Homo sapiens: one gene and its partners. Changing the gene in region 2 together with the main gene of any one other region gives a genetic interaction. Each region holds a gene or a part of one and is shown on either strand. Other genes may lie near its edges. The genes, in order: LIG1, NAMPT, PTPRJ and DUT.

Region 1 (7,848 bases), on a different chromosome or scaffold from region 2:
GGACATCAGTGCTCAGCCAAGTCGGTGCTGGGGTGCCCACCTCTAGATGTGAGAAAAAATCATATGGGCTTACACCACGCAGGACTGAGTGCTCTGTCATTTGCAGCCAAACGCAACCTGATCTCCTCCCAATAAACCCCGCACTGTGCCACACTGGCCTAGATGGGCCTCAGGCCTTTGCACCCCTGACCACAGACCCTGGCAGAGTGCAAGTGTGTGGCAGACGCCCACCTTGGGGATGCGGCTGATGATGTCCGGGTACTTCCCAGTGTTGTCTTCCTGATTCCTGCTGAAGATCTTCACCTCCCCGCCTTCCAGGGCGTGGATCTGTCACGATGGGAGAAGGGAGGGGAAATCAGCTGAGTCCCCTCATGTGGCCTCAGCTTTCTCTTCTGACCCCACCTGCACTGGTAGAAGGTTCTGGAAGCTCTGGAGGAGGAACTGGTGCAGAGACTTGAGCGAATCATCTCCTCAGTTCCAACAGCACCTCCCAGCCCTGCTCTGGAAGGCCCTACCATCATTTTCTTCTTCATTTCCAATCCCTACACCTCTCCCCATGTAGGCACATGCACCTTGCTGCATGTGGGTGCTGATTTGTTTAAATGTCATTATGCTCTAGATCTCATTCTGATTTTTTTTTGAGGCGGAGTCTCGCCCAGGCTGGAGAGCAGTGGTGCAATCTCTGCTCAATGCAACCTCCACCTCCCGGGTTCAAGAGAGCCTTCCGCCTCAGCCTCCCAAGGAGCTGGGATTACAGGCGCCCACCACCACACCTGGCTAATTTTTGTATTTTTAGTAGAGCCAGGCTGGTCTTGAACTTTCGACCTCAGGTGATCCGCCCACCTTAGCCTCCCAAAGTGCTGGGATTACAGGCGTGAGCCACTGCGCCCAGCCTCTATGTCTATTTATTTTAAGACAGTCCGGTCACAGCCCTTGAGCAGGGCGGCATATATAGCATCTTATATGTTTGTTATTATTTCCAGGAACAGTTGTCAAGAAATCATTGTCACTATCGTAAATCATCTTGTGTCTTTTTTCTCAACACTATTTTGGAGATCCATCTCTGATCCTGTGTCTGTTGGATCCACCCTTTTTTTTTTTTTTTTTTTAAAAGATGGAGTCTCACTCTTATCGTGGAGGCTGTAGTGTAGTGGCACGATCTTGGCTCACTGCACCCTCTGCCTCCTGGGTTCAAGCAATTCTCCTGCCTCAGCCTCCCGAGTAGCTGGGACTACAGGCACACGCCACCACACTGGCTCATTTTTGTGGTTTTAGTAGAGATGGGGTTTCACCATGTTGGCCAGGCTGGTCTCCTCAGGGGTCCACTTCCTGTAACTGCCCCGAGCCCTGTGGCTCCCACCCACTTTGCCTGCTTACCTATCCCCAGGTGAGAAGGCCCCACACTTGCCAGGACAGAAGAGACACAACACATTCTTACAGACCCCAGGACCAAGGACGCCTGAGGCCCTGGATCACAGGACACACATGCACGTCACGGCATGAAGGGGTCATGTAGGCACCTCCCAGAACGGCTGTTAAAATGAACACACCCACCAGCAGCATCAGCGGAGCCCACGTTTCATGAGCTCCCACTATCATCGGTCAGGACTCTGGAGGATTGTAGCTTCGGATAAGCTGGTGAGGTAGTTAAGACCACACCCTAGAGGCCAGGCACGATGGTTCATGCCTGTAATCCCAGCACTTTGGGAGGCTGAGGTGGGTGGATCATGAGGTCAAGAGATCGAGACCATCTTGGCCAACATGGTGAAACCTCGTCTCTACTAAAAATACAAAAAATTAGCCGGGCACGGTAGCGGGCGCCTGTAGTCCCAGCTACTTGGGAGGCTGAGGCAGGAGAATCACTTGAAGCCAGGAGGTGGAGGTTACAGTGAGCCAAGATCATGCCAATGCACTCCAGCCTGGATGACAGAGTGAGACTCTGTCTCAAAAAAAAAAAAAAAAAAAAAAAAAAAGAACACACTCACTGCATGGAGGTGGATGCTGAAGCCCAGAGAGATGAGCGAGGGCTCGGCAGTCTGTGGCGCAGGCCGGCTTGAAGCTCAGGCCTCAGTGACCCCACACCCCTGCTCTTTGACGTTTTCCTGTCTGTGGAAGGGACATGTCCCACTCCCCATACCTGTGCCCTCTGCCCGTCATATTTGTATTCGCAGGTGAAAGCTGCCTCCTCAAAGCGTTTCAGGACCTCGCTGATGCCCCGGGTGGGATGGGCCAACATTGGTTTCAGGGGAATCCCTGGGAAAGGAGGAGAGTGAGTTAGAGGAGAGGGAAGGCAATGGATTAGAGGGGGAACATGGAGAGGAGAACTGCTAATGGGCCCCAGGACCATTCTGCTTTCTTGCTATTCAGTCACGAAGCCTCCCACGTTTTAGAAGGGGACCTAGCCTCCCACTGGGGACTACAGCCCCCGGCCTTCCTTCCAGGTGGGAAAGGCCATGTGATTGGAACCCACGCAGCATGTGCAATGTCTGGCTCACATCCTTGCAAGGAATCTGGTTGCCTCCCCTCCCTCCTCTGCGTCCCTCCTCCCACAATTAGAACAGGGAAGTGAGCCACATTTGATCACAGACATTGGGGTGACAACCTTTGGAGGGCAGAGGGACACAGGAACCTGGGTCCCCGGGTCATCCCTGGGACACAGCTGCACACCTGTACCTTCCCTGGCCACCTCCCTTGCTCTGGACACTTCTGTGTGACAGAAAGAAATTCTATCTGGCCTGACCCACTGCCTTCTGGCCCATTTTTATTTACTTATTTATTGTCTCACTCTGTCGCCCAGCTGGAGTGCAGTAGCGCGATGACGGCTCACTGCAGCCTTGAACTCCTGGGCTCAAGCGATCCTCCCACCTCAGCCTCCCGAGTAGCTGGGATCACAGGCACACGCCACCACGCCCGGCTCCTGTTTATCACAGCAGTGTCACCTACACCCTATCTACTCCACAAGGGGAAATTCCAAGGAGAAAAGCAGTGGGTTTCAGCACCAGGGAGGAGCATTTGGTTTTGGTGGGGGAGAGGACTCTGCAAGTTCTGAGAGGGGCGCCTACGATGGCCACCCTCACGCCGACTCAGGAGGGAGCAGGGCTGCTGCCAGGCTGGTGAGCGCCCCTGGGGCCTGTACCTGGGCTCAGCTTGCAGTGCTCCGGGAGACGTTCCAGGCCGTGCTCCAGCAGCACGGGGATAATTCGGTCCAGGTCGGGAACCTCGCTGGGGTGGCGGGTGAGAACAAGATAGGGGAAGCCTTTCTAGAACTCACACAGTTTGGAAAGAGAGCTCGGCCTGCTCCCAGAAGCCTGGGCTCCTGGATGCCTCTGCCCACTGAGTCACCACCTGCCAAGCTCCTCTTGCCACCCTGTCTCTGTGCTCTCCCTTCGTGTCACTATCTGTTGCTTTGTCTCCCTTAGTCTGGCCTTGCCCCTGTTCCCTATCTGTCACCACGAGACCAGCGATTCTCTACTCGGCTACACAGGAGACCACTCAAGAATACAGTTTTTAAAAAAAGGTTTTTGGCCGGGCATGGTGGCTCATGCCTACAGGCATGTAATCCCAGCACTTTGGGAGGCCGAGGTGGGTGCATCACTTGAGCCCAGGAGTTCAAGACCAGCCTAGCCAACATGGTGAAATCCCATCTTTACTAAAAATATAAAAGTTAGCTGGGGGTGGTGGCACGCGCCTGTAGTCCCAGCTACTCAGGAGACTGAGGCAGGAGAATCACTTGAACCCTGGAGGCGGAAGTTGCAGTGAGCTGAGATTGTGCTGCTGCACTCCAGCCTGGATGACAGGGCGAGACTCCGTCTCAAACAAAATAAAAATAGACAAAGGTTTTCAAGGCTAGGTTCCACCTACAAAGATTTTGATGTAGCTGGTGTGGGGTAGGCCTGAGGTCAGCAGCTGATAGAGCCCCACGTGCAGGCAGAGTTGAGCTTGCTGCCCGGGCCTGTTCACCACTCTCTGCTCAGCACCCAGTGGGGGGCCCTGGCCCAGAGCAGGTGCTCTGAGGCCATCTGTGGAACTGCCATCGGCCCTCCTGCCTCTGACATCCTCTCTGGGGCAGTCATGATCTTGGAGTCACCAGCCCTGGGTCAGCTGCTGGCCTAGGTCCCTCCACATGGCTCTCTCTGGAGCCCTCGTGGCCGCTCCACGGATGTCCTCTCCATGACTGTCAAGACCCTTCACCATGTGTCAGTCACCTGCTCCTCTCTGGGTCCCTTAAGGCCTTTCTGCATGCACAGCCCTGTCTGGCACTCAGAAACCTCATGTTGCCGGCTGCCCTCCCTTGCTGTCAGCGTCTTTCTTTTTTTTAAGACAGTCTCACTCTGTTGCCCAGGCTGGAACGCAGTGGCGTGATCTCAGCTCACTGCAGCCTCCAACTCCTGGGTTCAAATGATTCTTGTGCCTCAGTTTCCCAAGTAGCTGGGATTACAGGCTAATTTTTGTATTTTTAGTAGAGACAGGGTTTCACCATGTTGGCCAGGCTGGTCTCAAACTCCTGACCTCAAGTGATCTGCCTGCTTCAGGCTCCCAAGTGCTGGGATTACAGGCGTGAGCCACTGTGCCTGGCCGCTGCCAGCGTCTTTCTATACCTCTCCTGGGGTCACTGACCCTTCACTGTTTGCCACCTTCCTGATCTTTGTCACCATCCTTGTGTCAAGCACCAGCCTTGTCTAGATCACCACCTCTGCTCTCAGTCACCCCGTGACCGGCACTCGTGATGCCTGTCCGTCACTTCACTGGCCCCACCCACTGCTCCTCTGGCTCCACCCCCACCCTGGCACTCTGCCCACAGCCCCTGGCAACTCCACCCACTGCCCAGCTCTCACCAGAACGTCTGCTTCAGGATCATGCCTTGCTCCTCCAGCCACGTCTTTCTGGCCTCTGCTGTCTTGCCCTTCCCAGCATCCACCATGGCTGGTGGGAATTCTAAGAAAAGACCCACCAGAGGCTTTGGAAGGCACCCACATCCTTGGCTACACCAGGGTGCAGTGGGTGGTTTGCTGTATGGCAAGGAATGCAGATGCCGCGGCCCAAGACGCCCCCTCCCCCCCACCCAGGAGAGAGGAGCCTGGTATGGCAGGGGCCCGCTGGGGAAGGGGCGGGCATGGGCCTCTGAAGAGGAGGGGGGAAGCCTGAGGTAACTCCAGCGAGGGATGCAGAGACGGGCCACAGGAGCTCACCTTGGCCCGGGGGCGTGAGGCTCACTGCCTGGGAGAGGGCAGCCAGCACCGACTGCTCTGCCAGCCCAAGGCGCAGCCGTCCGCTCAGGGACCTGGGGAGAGAGCAGGCCAGGGAAGGGGGCTTGTCTGCACCTCCCCAATCTTGCCTCCTCCCTTCTCTGATCTCCTCGACCTTGATGTATGTAGACCCTCTCCTCAAAAACCAGAAGAATCTTCAGAGCCTGGAAGGGACCCCAGATATCACACAGCCCCATGTGACAGATGAGGAAACTGAGCCAGGCAGTAATGATCCTGCCCACTAGCATAGACTGGGGAGGGGCACAAGTAGGTGCACCAGCACCTCCCATCTCAGCTGCCCTGAGGGGTTGGCGAGGCTTGAGGAGGATGAGTCAGGGAGAGAACTGAGCCTGGCGCCCGCCCTGGTGACTGTAATGGTCAGGACCCCAGCATGGTCCTTGCTTTGAGCCAGTGGCAGGAGACAAGTGGCTTAGTTTGCCTCCCCATGTCTCCATTTCCCCTTCTATAAACTGGAGGTGAGGGTAACAAGACCAGTCTCACAGAGTTGCTGGTAGGAACTGATGAGGTAAGGCACGGGGCACAGGGCAGGGCTCCCAAGAAATGCTCCATGATGTGAGCCCTCAATGGATTTGCTCTCACTGTCATGGCAAACAAACCCTGGCTTCCTGCTGCAGGGCCCGCGCCCAAGCCGAGGCAGACCTCACCAATCAATCACAGCATGCTTCACCCACAGGGGCCCAGGGGCCTTCTCTAGACAGCACTACCAAGGGACAGAAGCTGGCCTGTGAAAGGAAATGGTGTCCCTTCCCACTCTTTAGGGGCTGGGCCTCCTGCTCATGCTTTTCTCATCCAAGGATGGTCAGGGCATTTGTGATGATTCCAGCTGCCAGTCCCTCCCTCCTTTCACCTCCGAGCCTGCAGTCCCCCTCTGTAGCCTCACAGGCCCACACGCTTACCTAGCGATGAACCGGGCTTCTGAGTGGCGGCAGGCCACAAAGAGGCCTTTGATGATGTCTATCTTCTTGGCTGTGGACTGGAGAGTCAGGGGAAGAGCCGTCAGTGCCTGGTGAAGGCAGGGACCACACCTCCACCCCACCAGCCGTGCTGCTGCCCTGCATTTTGGAATACCTGCCCTCCTTCCCTCACCCCATCCCCATGTCCCAGCTCCCATGGCCGCCCACTCTTAGGGCAGTAAGAACGAGCTAGCTCTCCTCCTTGCCTCCCTCTCCCTTTATCCAGGAAGTATTTACTGAGTCCTGTCATGTGGCAGCCATGGCATTAGGTCTGCTAGACTCTGAAGAGGAGACTCCCCTAGGATTGGGTGCAGGAAGGAGGAGAGGAAGCTGTGCACCCCATGAGAAGGACTGATGCGACCCAGCTGATGGTCTACCCAGAAGCCTTCCTGACACACGCGTGGCCTCAGGTCCCCAAGATGTCTGGGGTCCGGGATGAGCGGCCCGCCCCACTCACAGCACTGCCAGTGAGCCTGGCGATGTCGCGGAACTTGCTGAAGACCCCGGAGGCAGTGAGCGGAGGTGGTGGCAGCATGAGCCTCTGGGTGCTGCGGCTGTTCTCGGCCACCAGCCCCACGTCGCCTTTCTCGGCTGCCTCAGCCCGGACGGACTCCAGCTGCCGACCTTCAGGGGAGAGCGCGGGTGGGGGTGTCGAGGGTGACAGTTGTGGCTGCGTGTCTCCCTTCTCTCGCGGCCTGGATGAATTTTCTCCAGCTGTGTGTGCTTGTGGCGAGTCCCTGCACCTCCCTGTGTCTAACGCTCACCCACTTGGTAGAAATGGCTTGGGGAACGTGCCCCCAGCCACGCTGGCTGTAGGAAGTCAGCAAACATGCACGTGGAGCCAGGAAAGCGGTGGATGAACGAGCATGACCACACTCAGGGGAGACATCTGGGCCGGTGTCATCAGGGCGCGGATGGGATTTAAAGCCACAGGCGGGACAAGGTCACTAGGGAAGTGAGTGTGGACAGAGCAGAGAAGGCCAAGGGACCCTTTCCTCTGGCGGGTCATGAACATCTCTGGCAGTGACCAAAGACCCTTCGGCTTGTTTTGGAGCCACCAGCTTACACACGTGGGATGTGCTCTGGCCCCACTTACTGTCCAGAGCTGGGTCCCATGGGCGCCTGGGTGTAAGAGCTGGGGAGATGGAGCCTCAAGTCACGGTGACAGCTGTGACAAGCAGCTCTCAACCTATCAGAACCAACACACCCTTGTCACCAGATACTGTGTGTCACCTCTTTTCTGGTCTGAAATAAAATGTGGAGATAACATAACCTGCCTACACCTATCGAGATAACGCCCTAACCCTAACACAGAAAAGAATGAAAGGGAAAGCAATCCGTAATGAACGAACAAGTGCGCGTTTCAGTCCACAGATGCTCAGCCGCGGCACAGAGCACATGAAGGTGGGCCTCGCGCCTGAAGCGAAACTGCCACAAATGGGAGAGCCGACAGTGTGAGCCTCACCAATGGGATGTTATCGAATCACACATCAAAGGGGACGGGATTCTCCAAAGTGGCCAACAACTCACAACAAACCCGGGACTTGGACAGCCACGGGGGCCACAAGGCGGCACGGAGAGCAGTGTGAGTGTGAACACGACCCATCAAGGGTGGAGGCATGAGACAG
Region 2 (7,441 bases):
AGAAATTACTTTCTGAAATGCTTGGGACCAGAAGTGTTTTAGATTTCAGATTTTGGAATATTTGCATTTACTTACTGGCTGAGCATCCCTAATTTGAAAATCTGAAATCCAAAATGCTTCTAAGGACATTTACTTTGAGTGTCATGTAGGCATACAAGACTTTATTCCATGTTCTGGAGCATTTCAGATTTTGGATCTGGGATGCTCAGCCTGTACTTCAGGAAGAAATTTGAGATTCTGAAATAAGAGTTGGAGAGAAGACACAGATTATAATGTTATTTAGTAGGTAAATCAATAGGATTATGTGGCCGATTAAATGTATAGGGTAATGGAGAGGGAAGTTTCATGTTGGGGGCTGCCTGAGCTGCCAAATGAGAGAATCAAAATAAATATAGTAAGTTCTGGGGGAATATGGTAAGCTTGGATTTGTTGCATCTGAGTGGAAATGTATCAGTGACAGGTAGAATGATTTAGAAGTCTGGGCTGGAGACATAAATGTGTGGAGGCTGTAGTAGATAGCTCATAGCTGACACCACGTGAATGGCTGACATCAGCCAAGATGAACATGGAGATAAATGGGATGTGTCAACATTTAAAAATGTGTGAAAAACAGACCGAGAGAGAAGGGACAGTCCACAGGGATTAGAAGACCCCAAAAGATCATAGAACAAAGTAGTAAAGAAATGAATTCTTAGTAGTGGCAAATGCAGGAGAGCCCTCAGATAATGTAATAACAAAATTTATTCATTTGGCAATTAGAAGGTCACTGCTTTGTCCAATAAGAGGTGAGAACCAGATGGAAGATAACTGAATGGGAGGTGAGGCAGTAAATGGAGAGAAGTCTGATGTAAATGGGAGAAGGGAGGCTAGAGCTGGTGTTATCAAGGGAGTTCTTTAAAAAAGGTGTGAGAAAAAGGAACATGTTTGTTAGCTGAAGAGGAAGGGCTGGAAAGCGAGAGGCTCAGAGATCTGGCAGAACAACTCTGGCGAGTCAGGAAGACCTAATCAGAATTAAACGTGTAGCCAATTCAAGAGAGTTTGTAAGCGAGATCGTTAATCCATCTCTATAAAAATTACAAAATGCCCATGCCTATGTCCTGAATGGTAATGCCTAGGTTTTCTTCTAGGGTTTTTATGGTTTTAGGTCTAACGTTTAAATCTTTAATCCATCTTGAATTGATTTTTGTATAAGGTGTAAGGAAGGGATCCAGTTTCAGCTTTCTACATATGGCTAGCCAGTTTTCCCAGCACCGTTTATTAAATAGGGAATCCTTTCCCCATTGCTTTTCTCAGGTTTGTCAAAGATCAGATAGTTGTAGGTATGCGGCGTTATTTCTGAGGGCTCTGTTCTGTTCCATTGATCTGTATCTCTGTTTTGGGACCAGTACCATGCTGTTTTGGTTACTGTAGCCTTGTAGTATAGTTTGAAGTCAGGTAGTGTGATGCCTCCAGCTTTGTTCTTTTGGCTTAGGATTGACTTGGCGATGCAGGCTCTTTTTTGGTTCCATATGAACTTTAAAGTAGTTTTTTCCAATTCTGTGAAGAAAGTCATTGGTAGCTTGATGGGGATGGCATTGAATCTGTAAATTACCTTGGGCAGTATGGCCATTTTCACGATATTGATTCTTCCTACCCATGAGCATGGAATGTTCTTCCATTTGTTTGTATCCTCTTTTATTTCCTTGAGCAGTGGTTTGTAGTTCTCCTTGAAGAGGTCCTTCACATCCCTTGTAAGTTGGATTCCTAGGTATTTTATTCTCTTTGAAGCAGTTGTGAATGGGAGTTCACTCATGATTTGGCTCTCTGTTTGTCTGTTGTTGGTGTATAAGAATGCTTGTGATTTTTGTACATTGATTTTGTATCCTGAGACTTTGCTGAAGTTGCTTATCAGCTTAAGGAGATTTTGGGCTGAGACAATGGGGTTTTCTAGATAAACAATCATGTCGTCTGCAAACAGGGACAATTTGACTTCCTCTTTTCCTAATTGAATACCCTTTATTTCCTTCTCCTGCCTGATTGCCCTGGCCAGAACTTCCAACACTATGTTGAATAGGAGTGGTGAGAGAGGGCATCCCTGTCTTGTGCCAGTTTTCAAAGGGAATGCTTCCAGTTTTTGCCCATTCAGTATGATATTGGCTGTGGGTTTGTCATAGATAGCTCTTATTATTTTGAAATACGTCCCATCAATACCTAATTTATTGAGAGTTTTTAGCATGAAGGGTTGTTGAATTTTGTCAAAGGCTTTTTCTGCATCTATTGAGATAATCATGTGGTTTTTGTCTTTGGCTCTGTTTATATGCTGGATTACATTTATTGATTTGCGTATATTGAACCAGCCTTGCATCCCAGGGATGAGGCCCACTTGATCATGGTGGATAAGCTTTTTGATGTGCTGCTGGATTCGGTTTGCCAGTATTTTATTGAGGATTTTTGCATCAATGTTCATCAAGGATATTGGTCTAAAATTCTCTTTTTTGGTTGTGTCTCTGCCCGGCTTTGCTATCAGAATGATGCTGGCCTCATAAAATGAGTTAGGGAGGATTCCCTCTTTTTCTATTGATTGGAATAGTTTCAGAAGGAATGGTACCAGTTCCTCCTTGTACCTCTGGTAGAATTCGGTTGTGAATCCATCTGGTCCTGGACTCTTTTTGGTTGGTAAACTATTGATTATTGCCACAATTTCAGCTCCTGTTATTGGTCTATTCAGAGATTCAACTTCTTCCTGGTTTAGTCTTGGGAGAGTGTATGTGTCGAGGAATGTATCCATTTCTTCTAGATTTTCCAGTTTATTTGCGTAGAGGTGTTTGTAGTATTCTCTGATGGTAGTTTGTATTTCTGTGGGATCGGTGGTGATATCCCCTTTATCATTTTTTATTGTGTCTATTTGATTCTCCTCTCTTTTTTTCTTTATTAGTCTTGCTAGCGGTCTATCAATTTTGTTGATCCTTTCAAAAAACCAGCTCCTGGATTCATTGATTTTTTGAAGGGTTTTTCGTGTCTCTATTTCCTTCAGTTCTGCTCTGATTTTAGTTATTTCTTGCCTTCTGCTAGCTTTTGAATGTGTTTGCTCTTGCTTTTCTAGTTCTTTTAATTGTGATGTTAGGGTGTCAATTTTGGATCTTTCCTGCTTTCTCTTGTGGGCATTTAGTGCTATAATTTTCCCTCTACACACTGCTTTGAATGCGTCCCAGAGATTCTGGTATGTTGTGTCTTTGTTCTCGTTGGTTTCAAAGAACATCTTTATTTCTGCCTTCATTTCGTTATGTACCCAGTAGTCGTTCAGGAGCAGGTTGTTCAGTTTCCATGTAGTTGAGCGGCTTTGAGTGAGATTCTTAATCCTGAGTTCTAGTTTGATTGCACTGTGGTCTGAGAGATAGTTTGTTATAATGCATTGCCTAGTTTATGTCAAAGAAATAACAGCTCAGTAGCCAATTACGGAATTTAAAAAATATATAAAGCAGGTCAGGATAACTGTGTTTCTAACTGAATTCTGCTGCTAACCATGAAAAATGGCGCTTCTCTGGGGTGAACATAAATGAATGAGTAATAAACCACGTACAAGTGGGATCTGGCCTCCGACTTTGTAGAAAACCAAAGTACACACCTGCTTCCATCTTCTCCTTTCTTCTAGAAGGACCCCTATCATTCAAGGCCAATACCCTACCAAGTGCTTTGGATCTTACCTTTCTCCACCTTCTCTGGAACCCCAAATCATCACTGATGTCTTTTTGCTTTTATTTTCAACTCCTCCCTCTTTCCTGGACCTTTTTCAGATGTAAGGCTACAGCTAGAAGGACAAAGATACTATTGCCTCATTCTCTCCTCCCTTTTCGCAACCCACATTCAAAGAGGTATATAAGGGAGCTTCTTTCAGAAATAAGCCTCTTCTACTACCTGGAAAGGAATGTGTCTAAGGCACCAATTATTTCCAGGTGGCTAAATCCAGTAGCTGTTTTAAATTCTTCATCCTATTTGATCTCTCAGCAGCATTCAACAGCTGGGCTGAAAAATGTTTCCTCTGGCTTTTGTGACTTCACTCCTTCTGGTTGGAACTTTCATCTCTTTAGCTATGCTTGTCATTTGGTCTGCTCATGTTCTGCCACTTAACCTTCAAGAGTTACTCATGGTTTAGCCCTAGATTCTCTTTATACTCTAGCAGAGATCAGCACACTTTTCCTGTGAAGGGCCTCACAGTAAACTATTTTAGTTTTTACAGCCATAATTTCTCTGTTGCAACTAATCAGTGTTGCCACTGTGGCAAGAAAACAGCCAAAGGCAGTAACTAAATAAATGGGTGTGGCTATGTTCCAATACAGTTATTTACAAAAACAGATGGTGGGCTGGATTTGGCTCATGGCGTGGGGTTTGCCAACTCCTGCTCTATACTATCCCTAGAAGAGTATCCTTTACTGTGTGCTTCCAAAGATGTATACCTTCCAAGGTATACATCAGTCATACCTTGAGGCCCTTCTGTCCACAAACCTGTATCATCAACTGCCTACTTAATACCTACATTTAGATATGTCAAAGGCGTCTCAAGCCTTAACACGGGAATCGTGCTCTTTCCTCTCAAATCTGATGTCCCTCCAGTGTTCTTCCTTAGTAAAAGGCACTGTCATCTATACAGTTGCACAAAGCAGAAAAGGAGTCAACTCTGACACTTGCCCTTCTCTCATCTTCTAATTCTTTGAACTGGAGGAATACTTAAAACAGGTAGGCCTGAAAATGGCATTACTTGAAGCACACAAATTTAACACTTCACTAATAGAGCTAAACTTTATTTCCATGTTTATTACATGTTTATAACTTGATGTTGAGTACATATTAGAATAGACTTAACATACAACTTGGGAGAAAAGCTGACATTCTCCACTGAATGGGTTAAAAAGGAATGTAAAACTACAAAATACTTAAGTGTGAGTTCTAAATTATGGCAAACAGAACAATAAATACCTTGCCATTTTTCTTTCTAATTTTCCAAGATAGATTTCATTATAAAAATTGTTTGATAACAATTTAAGAAGGGAAAACAAGGGATACTCATAAAAAACATTTTACTTTAATTATAGGGTACAAATAAGAGTCTTAACACAGAAATCCTACCTCCTATTTAAGATATAAATACTTGATGATATAATCAATCAAGAGGGATTAATTAATGTCAGTTGAAAATCTAATGACTTAAATCCATAAATGCCATTTGCTTTTGTCTGGAAGATTTAGACTGATTTAAGGGTGACACACAGCAGAGTTCTAGTGGACATTCGTGTTAACCGTTTGGTGCTCAGAATGGAGATGGCCAAATACCAAGTGCTTAGTGACAGAAAGTCAGAATTAATCAGTTCCAAGTGACTAAGAGCCAATAGAATTAATCTCCATCTCCTGATTTATGGTTGTGAACAAAGAGATAGCTTTTTTCACTGCAAATTTCTAAATTAAACTCTATTCTGAAGCTGCTGAAATTCACAGAACACAGAGAATACTGTCTGTACTATAATTTCAATGTTTAAACACAAAATTATGGGTGATTATCAAAACTATTATTGGTAATAGTTTCTTTTGATTCTTTACACGCCCCTTAGCACATTTTGTGAAGAAATGTGTGTTTTTCTTAATACTACTCATCTTTACTCAAATACATTAAAAAATCATTTTAAAATTATTTTATATCATGGATTACAGAAGACTTACTAAAAGTGAATAATGCTTATTGTTCTCACTACATGTTTAAAGAACCATCTGAAAAACATATTCTTTCTAATACCACTTACAAAAAACATTTAATGAAGATAACACTTCTAATTAGGTTATTCTAGTGATCATTTTCTCATGTAACTATTTAAAACAGATGATTTATGGCTTTTCAATTTTTAAAATTTCACATTTAATGTCATGTTAAAAACTTTTCTAAATCAGTCTTCCAGTATCGGATTCTTAAGTGAGAAAAAAGAAGACAAAAGAGGAAAATTCCGTATCAATTATTTAGCCTCCTCCCTTCCCTAGAAACCAACATTTCCTTTTAAATGCAAGGCACACTCCTTTTCTTAGAACAGAGATCAGGAAACTTTTTGTGTAATTTTGTGTAAAGGGCAGGTTAATAAACATTTTGGGCTTTGCGATTCTCATTTGGCTTCTATTGCAGCTGTTTACCTTAGGCTGGAGTAGTGGGAAAGCAGCCATAGACAATCTGCATTTATAAAAAGAAGTCCAAATTTGGCCTTTGGGCTATAGTTGGCCAACCGCTGCCTCAGAAGAACAGATCTACATACATAAAAGAATCATTCGAAAGAAACTGGTCTCTAGTCAGATGTGATGTATGATTCAGAATCTAGTAGCTAATCACTCTAGAACATTTTGATGTCAAGCACTTTGAATTTAGCCAACTTAAGATTCTTCTATTGAAACACATGTCATGCTTTTCATTGGAGATAATTTATCTTCATTTAAGAATGTGCTTCAGTATTACTTATTGAGGGCATTCAGTTTAAAATTAATAAATGATGTCCATACAATTTAATATCCAATTTAATTTTTTAAAAACTTAATAAAAAATATAACAGAATTGAAACATTTAAGTACACTCACTACCCACTCCAGTAATTCATTTAAGTCATACCAACTATAGAATATGAAAAATAAATTCAGAAGTGTAATTACTTTAAAATACACTACTTCCACTTTTGTAAGTATTTTACATTTATGTATATATTCTATAGTGGAAGCAGAAATTCTCTCTAAAAACATTATCTCCTTAAAATCTTGAGGTGCATATTAGAGCCACAGGCAATCTCTGACATATAAAATTGCAGTACAGGCCTTTCAAATTTGGCATTTCACTGGTACAATACAACAACCAAGATATATAATAACTGTACAGTGCCTAGACATTCCAGTAAGAACCATTATTTTCTTTAATGTAGAATGATTAATACATATTCTACAAGGGGCAGTAAGGTTAGTAATTCTATAGGGTATGTCCCGACATAATTTTCAAATTGTACAATAACACAAACAACTTTGTTAAGGCCATGTTTTATTTGCTGATTAATGGACAAAAGGCAATGTAATTTATTTTCAAGTATTTTCTTGAAAGTCTGTGCTCATAAAAATCATGAAAAGTTGGAAAGACTGTTAAATCACTGAAACTTCAAATATATCTTACACAATCTTGTTTGTACAAAAATACAAGTTAAATATAAACATAAAGCAATCATGGTAATTTTATGCAAATCTGTTTTATGTGATCATCAGTTATATATAAAAGTTTCTCAGTTCTGTTATTTGTGAAAAGATCAATACCAGATTGAATGACTACCTATTGGCAAAGGGCCCTAAAAAGCTTACTTTAGCACTCATCTTTTACATGGTTAAATGCATTTCCTAATTTGAGATCACCTAAACACTGGAAAAGAAAAAAAATGAAAGGGCAGTATGTCCATAA
Region 3 (7,239 bases), on a different chromosome or scaffold from region 2:
CTGTCACCCTCTCTTTCTTGCTCCTGCCCTTGCCATGTGACATGCTGGCTCCCGGTCACCCTCCTCCGTGATTGTAGCTTCCTGAGGCCCTCACTAGAAGCAGATGCCAGCACCACACTTCCTGTATAGCCTGCAGAGCCATGAGCCAAACTAAAACCTCTTTTCTTTATCAATTAAACAGTCTCAGGTGGTGTTTCTTTACAGCAATCCAAGAAAGGCCTAGCACAGTTTGCTTCTTTTTCATTTGCCTATTCAAGTTACAAAAGGAGGGGGGCGGGGTGTTCATTATTATAATGTTCATTGTGGATGAAGCTGTAAAGAAACAGGCATTCTCACACACTATAATGAGAGTGTAAATTGCTATCTAGAGAAAAATTTAGCAGAATTTCATCTAAGCGTTACCTTTTTTTCTTTTTTGAGATAGGATCTCACTCTGTCACCCAAGTTAGAGTGCAGTGACACAATCTTGGCACAACCTGCCTCCCAGGCTCAAGTGATCCCCCCCACTTCAGCCTCCCAAGCAACTGGGACAACATGCATGTGCCACCACACTCGGCTAATTTTTTGTATTTTTTGGTAGAGATGACGTTTTGCCTTGTTGCCCAGGCTGGTCTCAAACTCCTGAGCTCAGGCAATCCACCTGCCTTGGCCTCCCAAAGTGCTGGAATTACAGGCATCAGCCACCACGACCAGCCTAAAGCCCTACCTTTTTATATATTTCGATTCATTAATTTTATAGAAAAGTTTACTAAGAAATTAATTGTGATGTCTGCAAAGATCTGGCTACTGTGATAGATGCCACATCCTTATTCACAGGAGAGTAAAATCAGAAATAATCTAATGGCAATCAATAAAAGAGTAGTTAACTCGAGAGTGGTATGTGTCCATACTATGGAGTATTATGCAGCTCTTAAAATGGTGAACAGGATGAATACCTAATAACACAGAAAGAGTTCACAATATGTCAAGTATAAAAAGCAAGTTTCAGCCAGGCACGGTGGCTCAGGCCTGTAATCCCAACACTTTGGGAGGCTGAGGTGGGCGGATCACCTGAGGTCAAGAGTTCAAGACCAGCATGGCCAACACAGTGAAACGCTGTCTTTGCTAAAAATACAAAAAAATTAGCCAGGCATGGTGGCACATGCCTATAGTCCCAGGTACTTGGGAGGCTGAGACAGAAGAATTGCTTGAACCCGGAAGGCAGAGGTTGCAGTGAGCCAAGATCATACCATCGCACTCCAGCCTGGGTGACAAGAGCGAAACTCTGTCTCAAAAAAAAAAAAAGCAAGTTTCATTAGCCAGGTGTGGTGGCACGCACCTGTAGTCCCAGCTACTCAGGAGGCTGAGGTGAGAGGATCACTTGAGTCCAGGAGTCTGAGGCTACGGTGAGCCATTACAGTGCCACTGCACTGCAGCCTGCATGACAGAGTGAGACCTCGTCTCTAAAAATAAAAATTTTTAATTTTAAAAAAGAAGCAAGTTTCAAAAAATTGAGCACAGAACCAACTTAAAAGGTTAGCAGCCAGGATAGTGGTTAGCTTTGCCAGGGTGTGGCTGAAAGGGGGCACCAAGGTGGCTTATGGCATGCTGGTCGTATATACTTTTTAATTTGGGTGCTGGTTATATGGGTGTGTTCATTTTTGGACAATTATTCAAACAGCCAACCTATGATTAGTGCATTTTTCTGTCTGTATTACGCTTCAGTAGAAATATTACTCAAAGAAATATGTTAATCTTAAAAAGAAATATGAACATGTTTGATTCCAGTTTTGCAAAAAGATGAAAGCAAATACATGAAGATGAAGATGTATGCATGTGTGCACATATGGGGGGTGTGTGTGTGTGGTGTTTGTGAGAATTCTAAAGGTTACAGAATTATTTACAGTAAAATGTTAACAGTGGTATTTCCTATGTGGTGGGATATATTAGCCCATATTAGTTATCTCTTGCTGTGTAACAAATTATCCCAAAACAGAGCAGTTTGAAACAGTAAACATTTATCATCTCAGATGCTTTCTGCAAGTCAGGGAGTCTGGGTAGGTTCTGGCTTGGGGTCTCCCAGGAGGCTGCAGTCAAGCTGTCGGCCAGGGCTACTGTCATCCAAAGGCTGACCTGAGAATCTGCTTCCAGGCCCACTCATGTAGCTGTTGGCAGGAGGTTCAGAAGAAGCCCACCACGTGGGCCTCTCTCAAGGCTGCTCAGAACATGCCAGCTGGTTTTGGAGAGAGTGCCGTGGGAGGGGGGCTGGAGGGAGAGAGACAGCGAGAGAGAAACTGCACAGTTTTATCTCAGAAGTGGGATGCCATCACCTCTCTGCAATCTACCAGTCACACAGACCAACCCTGCTACAGTGGAGGAGGGGCTACACAAAAATGTGAATACCAGGCGGGAGGATTATTGGGGGACATCTTGTTGAATGGTGACAACATAGGATTTTTTTATTTTCCTTCTTTTCCTAAATTTTTTTACCATGAACATATTATCTAACAAATTATACGGAAAGCTGCCAGCTGCTGGCAAGGGCGCTTCCTTCGCCCTGTTGCTGGTTTTTAGCCTTGCCTTACGGACCTCCTGGTTTCTTTTCCAATCCTATGTGCTCCACTGCCCTGCCACAGCCTAGCCAAGGATTGCTTCCACAGCCCAGTTCTCTGCCGCCATCTAGTGGCATCATCCAAAACTGCTGGCCCCAACAGGGGCCCACTACTCACCTTTTGGGTCAGGAGGCTTCACCTGCCTGCAGGAATGTAAAGCCCAGGCTCTCATGTTGGAGGCCCCAGAGATCTGCCACGTTCAGCCCCAAATAGAGCTGTGAAACCCCAGAAGGGATGGGATGGCTATCAGAACTTGGAAGCTTGGCCGGGCGTCGTGGCTCACGCCTGTAATCCCAGCACTTTGGGAGGCCGAGGCGGGCGGATCACAAGGTCAGGAGATGGAGACCATCCTGGCTAACACGGTGAAACCCCATCTCTACTAAAAATACAAAAAAATTAGCCGGGCATGGTGGCGGGCGCCTGTAATCCCAGCTACTAGGGAGGCTGAGGCAGGAGAATGGCGTGAACCTGGGAGGCGGAGCTTGCAGTGAGCCAAGATCGTGCCACTGCACTCCAGCCTGGGTGACAGAGCGAGACTCTGTCTCCAAAAAAAAAAAAAAAAAAAAAAAAAGAATTTTGTAACTTGACTAGTAAATTTAAAACTATACTGTAGCTTCACTTTTTTGAGGCAAGGAGGGAAAAGTGCTAAGTTTTAAACTAGTTACTCTTAAGTACTCCATATTCATTGGGAGAAGTTAGAAACTATAAACAGGTGAATATAAAAATAAAATCCACTCCTAATCCCACTATTATATTATTCTAGAGTTGTGTTTCTTTTCTTCTATGCACTTATTTAATTCTTATTGGGATTGTTCTCTGTTTATAGTTCTATGAATTTGTTTTCTCACTTAAGCTTTACATTTTATAAAACCACAGGTGATCATTCGGTTTTTCTTTCCCACAATATCTCAATTCCTAGGCTATACCTGGGTAAGGTAGTTTTTATCAAACTAAGTGCTAGGAGCAGAGAATGCTGTGCTATTTTGCAGGGTAGCCTAGTTTGGTTTGTTTTTTTTTTAAGTATGCAGATAACAGGTCAGCAATACAGTGTCTCCCTGCCTCCTCTAAACCAACACTGTGGGCAGAAAAGTTCTGGGACAACTTTGGCCTGAATCAAAACAGGAAGATGATGGATACTTTATCCGCAGCCCAAGCGCTGTCCCTAAGCAGAAAGCCCAGGAGAGCTAACTATATCATAACACACCCCCAACCAACTGGGTATCCATCCACCTGCAGGCTCATACCTCCAACCTTCTGGGAACACACACAATCTTAAGACACACAGCCACTTCCTCCAAGCCTCCTCTTCACTAAATTGCCCTGAATATGTGTTACAGGCTGAACTGGGTCCCTTCCAAAACTCATATGGTCAAGTCCTAACCCCCACTAAAACAGAATTTGACTACATTTGGAGTGTCTTTGAAGAGGTAATTAAGGTAAAATTAGGTCAATAGGGTGGGCCCTGATCCAGTATGACTCGTGTCCTTATAAGATTAGCCGGGAGCGGTGGCTCACGCCTGTAATCCCAGCACTTTGGGAGGACAAGGCGGGTGGATCACGAGGTCAGGAGTTCGACACCAGCCTGACCAACATGGTGAAACCCTGTCTCTATTAAAAATACAAAAAAATTAGCTGGGTGTGGTGGCAGGCACCTGTAGTCCCAACTACTCGGGAGGTTGAGGCAGGAGAATCGCTTGAGCCCGAGAAGCAGAGGTTGCAGTGAGCCAAGATCATGCCACTGCACTCCAGCCTGGGCGACAGAACAAGGCTCCATCTCAAAAAAAAAAAAAAAAGAAGGAGATTAGGACACAGACAAGCAGAGGGAAGACCATGTGGAGGCATGGGGAGAAGACAGCCATCTGCAAGCTACGAAGAGAGGCGCCTGAAGGCTGGGGCAGGAGAACTGCTTGAACCCAGGAGGCAGAGGTTGCAGTGAGCTGAGATCACGCCTCTGCACTCCACTCTGAGCAACAGAGTGAGACTCTGTCTCAAAAAAAGAAAAAAAAAAAAGGCCTCACAGGAAACCAACCCTGCCCACATCTGGATTTCAGCCACCAAAATTGTAGGAAGTAAATCTCTGCTGTTTAAACCACCAGTTGGTGGTACTTGTTACAACAGCCCTAGAAAACTAAAACAATCCGGAAATCCCAAAGAGAAATGTGTTTTTGTTAAGGATGCCCAAGTAAAATGCAGGCCAGTAAACTGCTTGGCACATTGTAAGAAGGAAAAAAGAAGAAAGAAAGAAGCAAAGGCATAATGCATTGACATTTTTTTATATTTGGTATTTGTAAGTCTTTAAAAAAATGTTTTCAGGCCATTTTTTCCTTAAAAAAAAAAAAAGCAACCAACAGCAATACTCTGTACAAGTATAACAAACATTAGAAATATGCATCATTCCAAAATAGTTACAGGAAAATTACAGTTTAGAGTCCACATCAACACATCCTATTTGTATGTGCCCCCAAGGGAGAAAAAGCTACAGTATGTTAAACACACAGCTGCTACACAGTAGTCTGAAAACCCAGGACTTAAAACTTTTGAGGCAAATCAACAACAGTCACCAAGACTTGTTTAGCTCAATAAGTACAATCAAGCATTTCAAAAGAGAACCAGGCTTTTTCATCCCAGATGAAAAACACACGTGATGGGCTGCATAGCTGACCCCCGCCCCTCGATCCCCAACCCCCGGGAGCCTCTGACTCAACAGAGCACAAATCCAGTGGAGTCAATTAGGCGGAAGTCTGGCTGGAGGTCACAGTATGGCTGCAGTGGGCAGACACCAAATGTCATTTCCTGCTGGTGCTGATCATCACTAGATCCAACTTTGGAGGCAAAAAGTCGTTGTTCCTGGGAGATGCTATCAATGGCCCAAATCCCCCAAACCAGCTGGCCACCAGTCTTTGGCCCTTTCATTGACACCCAAACCCATACCAGCTGCTTTTCTGTATGCAATTGTCAAAGACTGAACAGGGGTGCTCACACCATCCCCCCGATTCCACTGGACTCTTCCAATTTGAGCTCATTGTTCCTGGGAGGGGTTGAAGCTCAGAGGCACCCTCCTCTTGCCTCTGACCAACCCCCAGCCTGTGTGTCCTTTATATTTACACATTAATCTTCCCTTTTCAAGCACTGTGCTATAAATACCCTTACCACCCCCACTGGCCCTGTCCCCAGCCCTTTTCAGGATGCAGAGAAGCATCGTGACCTTCGTGTGACCTGCCCATTTGGAATCCCAGACCGCTCCCCCGCAAGAGTTCCTCCCATGATTGCTGGGGCCGCTTGCCCATTTCCCAAGCCCACACCAGGCGGAAGGGAAGAGGGTTCCTGTGTTTTTCATTTTTATACAATATGTTTACAGTTATGTTGCTTTAATCTTTTAAAGTATTTAACCTTTTAAAGGATTTTTTAGCAACAAGTCCCTTCCTCTGACTTCTCTGTGGCAGTGATGTGGGCAGAGCAGGGCTTAGGAGCTCCCTGGGATTTGCCACCCATCACAATGGTTTCGGACATATTGGAGGGGAGAGGGCCACAGCCCACAGAACTGCTGCCTGAACAGGGACCTATGAATGAAGTACCGACCGCTCCGAGATCTGTATGAGTTGGAGGCAGGCCAGTGTGAAGGTGTGGGAGGAATCCGCCCACACCCAGCTTCATACAGCACCCTGAGGACAATGTGGCTTCCCTGATTCACACCTACTGAGCCAAGGCCCCCTCTGAAGTTAGGTCAAGAGGGCCCACCCTAGCCGGGCCAACTCATTCCTTTGAGGACCTGATACTCAATGAACTGCTTACTACCAAAAAAATGCAAAGGATTCAGCAAAAAGTGCAATTTCCATTTGAGAAGTAAGATTCTCCCCAAAACATGACACCACCTTTTCATCCTTTCAGTACCTCAAAGGGAAAGGGAAATAAAAGGCATACAGCACTAACCCTCCGAACCACAGCCGGGGCTTTAAAAGTGTGGTTCACCCTTTAGAACCCTAAAAGACCCATTAACACGTCCAGTCAGTTATCGAAGTGCCAGTGAGGTGAGGGGCGTGGCAGAGTCAGGAGGGACCAGGAGGCTGGAAGAGCCCGCTCACATTCTCAACAGGACACACCTGTCCTGTTTACAGCAGGACACATTACTGTGGCAACAGCCACAGGACTCCAGGGACTTGGTTATTCCTTCATAAAACCTTGTCAACTTCATTGCCTATTGGAGGATAAACTCAAAACATCTTCAAAATATAACCTGAGCCACAATATAAAATAAAAAGAAAAAATCTTTTCATGTTAATGCCTTAAGAAGTTTACAGATTATGTACCAATAAAATAAATCCACATAAATTTGAAATTCTTGGTGGATACACACCTGAAGCAAAAAAAAAAAAATTAATCTACATTTTAAAAATCAAAGTAATTACAGCAGCAGTATAGTGAAAAGGTTTTAAAAATAATAATTACATCTTTGATACAAATTCAAACTTTGTACACCTCAATTCATAGGAATGACTGTTTTTGAGAGCTTAGTGTATATATATATATATATATATATATATATATATATATATATATATATACACAGTAGATTCCGATATGTGTCACGGCAGAGAGAGACGAAAGCCAGTGGACTTTGGGGAAGGAGGGATTAATCTGACACTGAATT
Region 4 (7,848 bases), on a different chromosome or scaffold from region 2:
TGTTTTCCATATTATCTATATGGAAAAAATTTTGACTGCAGGGACAATTTAAATTAGATTTAATGAAGAAATCCCTCAACATAGCATGTTGTTCCATGCTAGAAAAAATGGCCACAGTAGGCTAGAGAACTTCCATGCTGGGAGATTTTGAGGTACAAGCTAATAATTCATCTATCTTGAATGAGTTAGAGAAAGACATGGACTGACTTCTGAACTATTGTTTCTACTTTATTCAAAAATTTTTAAATAACTAAAACAATACAAATACATATAAAGTAAAAGCTTATAATATTCTCTTACCCTCCCTGAGATAGCTAATGTTACAGAAATATATCTTACATACTACTTTATTTTTTTCTTTTTATCCTTTGAGATTAATATATGTAAATGTTAGCCATTCTTTTTAGATACAAGATATGGAAATATGGGTTCTCTCTCTCCTTCTCTTTCTTTTTTTGGCAGGGTCTCACTCTTATAGCCCAGGCAGGAGTATAGTGGTATGATCACAACTCACTATAGCCTCAACCTCAAGTGATTCTCCCACCTCAGCCTCCAGGTACAAAGGCACCACCACACCTGGCTAATTTTTGTATTTCTTGTAGAGAGAAAGTATCCCTATGTTGCTCAAATAAGCCTCAAACTCCTGGGCTCAAGCAATCTGCCTGTCTCAGCCTCCCAAAGTGCTGGGATTACAGGCATGAGCCACAACGCCCAACCTGTACCATTGTTTCTATGTAACTATTCTCTTGCATAATATCAGACACAGGCTGCTTTTACATTTTGCTATAATAAATGAAGCAGCCCTTTAAGTATATCCTTGTATATGAATGCTTTTTATTTTCATCAAATAGGTTGCAAAAAAGGTGTAGCCACTCAAACTTCCATCAGCAATATTTGAGAATGCCCATTTCCAAAATCCTTGCCAATATTTGATGGCAACAATCTCTTACATTCTGGCCAATATGATGAGTACAAAATGGCTATCTCATTGCCTTACTTTTCATTCCCTGATGACTAGTGAGGCTGGATTTTTTTCCTCCCATTTGTTGGACATTTGCATGTCCTTGTCTATATTTTGTGTATGTTTTTTTCTCATTTGTTCTTTTTCATATAAGTTGCAAATATTTGCTTGTTGGCTTTATAGTATCTTCTAACATACAAAAACACTCCCTTTTTGAAAGGCCTCTGCTAACGTATCTGTAAAGCAGTCCTATCAGAACTACTCAAATGATTGGGTGTCTTGAATCCTGCAGATAGGTGATCTTTATGCTTGGGCCACGAAAATGTGAAAAACCTTTAAGTGACTAAAAGAAATTAAGAAGTTTGAAGTCAATTCAAATGTATGGCAGAAAAAAAGGCCCTCAATAGTTTTTTTTTTTGCATGAATGTTGACGGTATAAAAATTTCAGTAGTTCCAAATTCATTTACCACCCAATTGCCATTCGACCTCCAAGAAAAGCCTTCTCTGCCTACAGGATATAAGTATCAGGGATATTTCTCCTCAGAGAAAGCAGAAAGTAACTTGAAGTTATCACTGGAAAAATCATGCATTGGAACTGGCAGAGTGATTAACTGACTTCAGGCAAAAGTTTTACTGTGTCAAGAGTTTGGCATGTCATTTGTTGGAAACCTTTTTTAGTGAAAAACTATCCACACCTACCAGATGTGAATTCTGAACAGAATCCTGAATGCTCAACTTTTCCCTTTGACCCTTATTTAGAGCCTGGGATTTCTAACAACATCTCTCTTCAGAAATAAAAACTGTTGCCAACTATGATAAACTTGTGCCTAAGGGAGATTGTTAAGATTCTCTGCATCCAAGAACACACCACAATGTGATTTTATGAATAACACCATACCAACCACTAGGCAAACTAACTTTCCATTCTTTTACATGAATTTTTTTCCAGAAAGTTGTTTTAAACAGAGCAAAAATTAGTAACAAAGTCGAATAAAAGAAAAAGTTTCCACATAAAAACAATCTGTGAAGTCCCTAAGGACAGAAATTATATCTCACAGAATCTAATATGTGCCAAGTACTATATTAGGTATTTCATACACATTATCATTTAATCCTCCTACCTCTAGAGGCAGGCACACTAATTTCCATTGTAAAATGAGGAAACAGGCTCAGAAAGGTTAAGTAATAACTAGTTAATGACAGAGCTGGGACCTACATCCAGTTGTTATTCCAAAGCTCCCGTTCCTTGAACAATCATTTGAAACTTCATTGAAAATATATACAATTATTTATATCCTTAAGTTACTGTCCCAAAATGACCACAGTTGACCTTGTAAAAGCATTTTTGAACATCGGGCATAACTTACAGAGCCCAAGGAATCCTCAACCCAAGAGTGGGCTGTCAATGTCCACCCTGCTATGTAAAACTCAGCTCCCCTTTAGTCCCTAAAGGGTGTACTTTTGGGGTCCTGTCTTGTCCCACAGCACCACCTGGTGACACTATGGAGAGACACCACACCCACCAAATGTTAGACTAAGGGGCAGGTCTAGGATAGCCAGGTTTCATTAAGTGCTTAGTTAGCCCTTGCAGTGGCACATAAAAGTGAGCTAATTCTGGACGTGTTTAGTTGGTGAGGGGGATGCAGCAGGGTAATCTCCACAATTAATTGCAGTGGAAAGAACAAGGAGGCTGGAATCACACAGAGACTCCAGTTTTTACCACATATCCATGTGGGCTCATTTCTAAGCCAGTTTTCCTGATCTGTTAACAAGCCTCCATAAAGCAGCTCTGTAAAAACGGGTGGAGGAGGAGATCTAGCACACCTACTTATGTGGGGGCCAAGGTATCTTGTTAAGTGAAAGATTCACTACTGATGGGATAAAGGGTCAGTATGTAAGGACCACATAAGTGGGGTCTGAATCCCAGTTGGAGCGGACCTGAAACAAGGAAACCACATCAGGAAAGTAGAAATTTCCTTACAATAAGAGGAGTAGCTCTGTATCAAGAGTAGTTAGCAGAGGACACTGAGGGTTCTTCATGAAAGGTACCACATGAGGTAGGGTTAACTTTGAGACAAACATGAGAAAGGCTTTATTATAAGGGAAACAGGTAACACAGAGGACTGTCTTAACAAATTTAGAGAAAAGTGTTTTCTCTCCTGACTTCAGGGAAAGATTTTCTTCTTAAATTTTGCTAAAGACAGATAGCTCTCTTATGAAGAAAATTCTTACAAGATAGACCTGTGTTTTCTAGAACTTTTGTTGCTTAAATAATTACTTAATTATTATATCATTAAATCTGTCATTATTAATTAGGTAATCATTATTTTAAAAATTAAGTTAGTAGTTAAACAAAATATAATTACTTAAAATAACCACAAAGCTTTTCCTCCTATTATAACAAGCTTTCCTCTAATCATTTTCTTTTCTTAAAAATAAAATCTGTCATTTGAATATTACCTTTTAAAGACAAAGTAAATACTTGCAAACATTTACAGAATAAAAAAGGAAATATATTACCTCCTACATCAATAAAGTGTTTTGCAGCCAAGCCTGACCGTGGAGCTAAAAAACAAAAAAGGAGACATTGGTTATTTTAAGGGGGAAGGGCTATATCAGAGATAACTGATGCAATTTAAGCATGTCATTCTCTTCACCTATAATATCTATATCTTCATCTTAACTTTAGCACATGGTTTTGAATTAAAGAATATATATTCATCATACTGCATTACCAAAGTTGGAAAGACTAGTTTAGAAAAATTCCACAAGGTTTTAATTCAAAACTAACTTAAACCACTCCCATGTGACTTCAGTCAGAATTTGTGGTGCTGCAGACAGGGGAGAAGGACTGCTAGAATGAGCTGAAAGGTGAGCAAGCGGGAACAACTGTAGGCTGCTCTTTCAAGAAGTTAAGCCTCAAAGGGGAAGAAAGAGAAGTATGGCCAGCAGGAACACACTACTGAGGAAGAAGACTTTGGTTTTAAGATGGGACACCACAACATGTACAATGCAGATGGGAAGGGAAAGGAAGAGGAAGGGAGAGGGAAACAAACCTAACCAAATAGTAGCAGACCATAGCCTACAACTTGGGACCCCACTATTCATGATTCAGATGCCAAAAGACATGCCTGTAGGAAACACATGAACCAGAGTAAGATAAATGGGCTAATATCAGTTAAGTAAAAATGCCAAAAACTAAGTCTCAATGATTCAATGCTAGTATACTTTTTAATCCTAAAAAATGAAAAAAATAAAAAGCTAAGGTTACACCTTATTATTGCAGACTCAAGCATCAGGCCTATAATTAATTATCCTAACTTCCAGCATTTTATTTTAGAATAATTTAAATCAGGCACTTTGTCAATAATGCTGCCTCTTTCTGTACTAACCTTTATTTCACTCCATCTCCTGCCCCTTCCCCTGAAAAAATTCTAAAAAATGGAGTCAATGATGCTCAAGAGATGAGATGAGAGCCCATCTTGTTATCTTTTAAGGGCTGAAGTACTGGCAGTTTCCTCACTCATGGCTAATAATATAGTGCCAGTCTAGCTCCTTTCCCTGGAGGAGGGCGTCACAGCTCCATTGCCTCCTTTATGTTTACTCTGAAGTTAGTCAAAAAGAACTTACGCTCTTGCAAAGAACTGTCTGGTAACAACTGATCCGCTCCAGAAAAATCAAACCTGTTGACGTGTACTCCATTTTGTCCTAGCTCCTCCCAGTGCCTCTACAACACTGAAGAGTATCCCTTACCCTAACCCCATGGCCAAACAAGAAAAGGTTAAGTAGGCTTACACATTCTGGGACCAACAGGTCAGAAGTTTTACTCTCATAATATAAAATGCCATGTTCTGAGAACAGCCTTCTAGGCCAGTGTGAGCCTAAAAGCTCCAGTGAGGAAGGAGAAAAATAAAAGGGTCAAAAAGAGGCAAAGCAGAGATGTAAATAAAGCCTTTCAAAGAGTGCATTTGCTATCACAAATGGTGCTTCTTTTAGGACACAGCCCAAGCAATATTGCCTGCTTATTACCCCAAATGAAACATGAAGAATCTATCACAAAGGAGAACTTGACAAATAGTTACCTGTTTCTTAAATGACTTACCCACTCTTCCATAACACCCAGAAGGGAGCGCTATCTGAATGTCCGTTTTCACAACAGCTTTCTCCATAGGTGGTATTGTGTAATCATAGGCACTAAGAAAATATTGAAAGAAAATAACTGCAAATCTATTTATAAAATTGTTTTTATATTTTCTTTGTGACCAAGCATACAAAATTACTTTCAGTGTATTTAATGAATTAATGCAACTTTAGTTTCTAAAATCAACCTTGCTATGATGAATTACCAATTCATCTTAAAAGTTTATGAAGAAGGTAGAGGTGGCTATTTTATTATTAAAAAGACAGCTTTAGATAAAATAATTCTCCATGAATATTTTTGGTGGTGTGAAGAGATGTCAACATTGTAAATGTTTGCCCCTGAACAAAAGTTTATTGGAAACTGAGGTACTTATCAGCGTGAAAGGGCAGAAAGGCAAACTTTCAAAAGGTGGATGCTTTACAACCATAGTTTGAAAAGGAAAAAAATGAAGAAAGAACAAAGAAAAAAGGCCAAATACTACTAATAATACTAGCTATCATTGATTAAGCCTTTACTGTGTGCCAGGAACAGTTCTAATTGGTTTACATATATTAACCCATTTTATTCTCACAATGATCTGTGTGATTAGGGAAAATATGCAGAAGGAAAGGAGAAAAACGGGTGGACAAAATAAGAGATAAAGAACTGTGTTGTATCTGTCAGGCAGGGCTTGGTAGTTTACCAAGCTTAGGCTATGAATTTCCTGGCTGAGGGAGACAGCTGATCACCGTGAACGGCCCCTGGAGATGGACCTTGCTTAGGAACAGAATTCCTCTAAAGTCCACATAGCAAATGCTGCTACTCTTGATATTACTGTGGCCCTCTCCTGGGTAGAAATTTAAGAGATTTTACAATGAGCAGAACCGGAAGTTTACTTTGGAGACCTTAATTAACTCTGGTAAAGCAGTACTACCCCTTCTTTCACTGAAATCCCTCTTTAAACAGTTAAGCCCTAATTTATTGCTGATCCATTATTTCCATGTCAATTTCAGTATACAGAAAGTCACCTGTGTTTATTAGGAGTCTACTTAAGGTATCTTAAATCAAGGACTCCCCTAGGACTCAAGAAAGTGCTCCAAAATATACTTTGGAAAGGTCTAGTCAAACTATATCACTCTACTTTTATTCATCAAAATTAAGAGACTGTAGTTTTTCCAGCTACAATTGTCCATACCTACTTTCCTTTTCCTTTTTTTTCTGTTGCTATCATCAGGCACTACTTTCTCTTCTCCTGTGCTTAGACTAATAGTTCTCATGTTTGAATTATCTGAGATACTTTAAAATAAATCCCAATGCTTGGGATTTAGTATAAAATCTCCTTCCCTCTCAGCATTACTTTTCTCCTACCTTAATGGTTCTAAGAACTGGGCACAGTAGTCAGATGAAAAAAAAAAAGCCCAAAATTCGGGATAAAAAATTATATCATCTTCAAGCCTCTGGGGAAATCAATTCAGCTCTTCACAAACTCCTGCCTGTGTAAAAAGTAACACTTATCTAGTTAAGGATTGTTGTGAGGACTAAATACAACAGCATACGGAAAGTTTTTAGTACAGGTAAAACGTGCTGTAGAGATGAAAGTGTGGTAGATTACAGGCAGCTCTGCCTTTCGTTTTCAGATGCCTTCTCAAATTCCGCCCTGGGCCGGATGAATGTATAGAAAATAACTTTTTAAGGCAGATGCATCTTCGTTCATCCTTCTTAGGTATTTTCACGCTCACATCTAGGCTCTCACCTTGGTTTTTCTATTGAGCACAGCATCACCCTCGGGCCACTCGAAAGCCACCATGGGCCTTCCTCTCTATCTTCTATTTAGGAAGGGCACAATAAACGTTGCAAAGTAACGCCTTGCTAGACACCGTATAGCTATTTTACTTATTCTGCAGTCTTTGCCCAAATCTCTATTTAATTTATGCCAAAGATGAAAGCTAAAATTTTAAACACGAAAAAGGCAGAAATCCTATTTATAGCTAGTGTGTTCCTGTGATCTCTCCGGTGACTGTTTCTAGCTGTGGCAGCGGACGGCCGGCCCTTCCCAGCCTCCTCGCCGGCAGGTCCCCGCTCACCTGTACAGGTCGTAGCCCGCGGCGCGCGCGGAGCCCCGGGTGGGGGCCGTGGCGTGCTCGGAGAGCCGGGCAAAGCGGAGCTGCATGCCGCCCACCTCCGCAGGCCGGGCCCGCTTACTGGGTGAAATGGCGGGTGTCTCTTCAGAGCAGGGCATGGCAGAGCCAGAAGGCGAGCGAGGAGACCACCGGGGGAAGAGGAGAGCGCACGATGAGCGTCGCCGCAGGGAGCGCGCCAAAACCGAAATTTCCCGCCAGCCCCGCCCCACCCACCGCCCCTCCCCGGGACGAGTCCACAGTTCTGGCTGAGAGGGGAGGCGGGATTCACATTTTGGGTTTGAAGCCCTTCTCGGAAAGCAGGTTTGGGATGGGAAACTACTGGGTCCCAGTCAACTTTCCACATTCAGCGCGTGGGGCCAACTTTGAAGGGGAGCTTCTAGGGCGTCGCCCTCACACACTAGAAAGCCGCCCCCTCGCCAGGGGACCCTAATGGACCACCCCACCCCCCCCGCCCCCCGCGCGCAGAAGGACCGCTCGCCACCCTACTTCCCCCACAGCCTCAAGCCGCGTGGATTCCTTCCAGACGGCCGGAGCCCCTCCCCCGCCTTTCCTACCCGGCCCCGGCGCCGGGCTTCCCCCCGCCTTAGGAAGCTCGCCCTTCCAGCCAGCGGCCCCGACTGTACTGG

The links.
Region 1: changes in NAMPT (region 2) and LIG1 together harm fitness more than expected from each alone (negative genetic interaction), as found in Homo sapiens cells (one large-scale study listed by BioGRID).
Region 3: changes in NAMPT (region 2) and PTPRJ together harm fitness more than expected from each alone (negative genetic interaction), as found in Homo sapiens cells (one large-scale study listed by BioGRID).
Region 4: changes in NAMPT (region 2) and DUT together harm fitness more than expected from each alone (negative genetic interaction), as found in Homo sapiens cells (one large-scale study listed by BioGRID).

The regions. Positions count from the first base shown.
Region 1 is NC_000019.10:48,130,845-48,138,692, forward strand, and holds part of LIG1 (DNA ligase 1), read right to left. Parts: intron 6,845-7,848; coding exon 6,678-6,844; intron 6,241-6,677; coding exon 6,164-6,240; intron 5,282-6,163; coding exon 5,190-5,281; intron 4,936-5,189; coding exon 4,836-4,935; intron 3,223-4,835; coding exon 3,137-3,222; intron 2,254-3,136; coding exon 2,138-2,253; intron 328-2,137; coding exon 232-327; intron 1-231.
Region 2 is NC_000007.14:106,243,536-106,250,976, forward strand, and holds the end of NAMPT (nicotinamide phosphoribosyltransferase precursor), read right to left. Parts: 3' UTR 4,763-7,441; downstream 1-4,762.
Region 3 is NC_000011.10:48,168,449-48,175,687, reverse strand, and holds the end of PTPRJ (receptor-type tyrosine-protein phosphatase eta isoform 1 precursor), read right to left. Parts: 3' UTR 4,849-7,239; downstream 1-4,848. UniProt on the Homo sapiens protein: Tyrosine phosphatase which dephosphorylates or contributes to the dephosphorylation of CTNND1, FLT3, PDGFRB, MET, KDR, LYN, SRC, MAPK1, MAPK3, EGFR, TJP1, OCLN, PIK3R1 and PIK3R2. Plays a role in cell adhesion, migration, proliferation and differentiation.
Region 4 is NC_000015.10:48,331,724-48,339,571, reverse strand, and holds part of DUT (deoxyuridine 5'-triphosphate nucleotidohydrolase, mitochondrial isoform 1 precursor), read right to left. Parts: coding exon 7,777-7,848; exon of another isoform or gene 7,716-7,776; intron 7,376-7,715; exon of another isoform or gene 7,321-7,375; coding exon of another isoform or gene 7,305-7,320; coding exon 7,166-7,304; intron 5,156-7,165; coding exon 5,064-5,155; intron 3,527-5,063; coding exon 3,482-3,526; intron 1-3,481. UniProt on the Homo sapiens protein: Catalyzes the cleavage of 2'-deoxyuridine 5'-triphosphate (dUTP) into 2'-deoxyuridine 5'-monophosphate (dUMP) and inorganic pyrophosphate and through its action efficiently prevents uracil misincorporation into DNA and at the same time provides dUMP, the substrate for de novo thymidylate biosynthesis.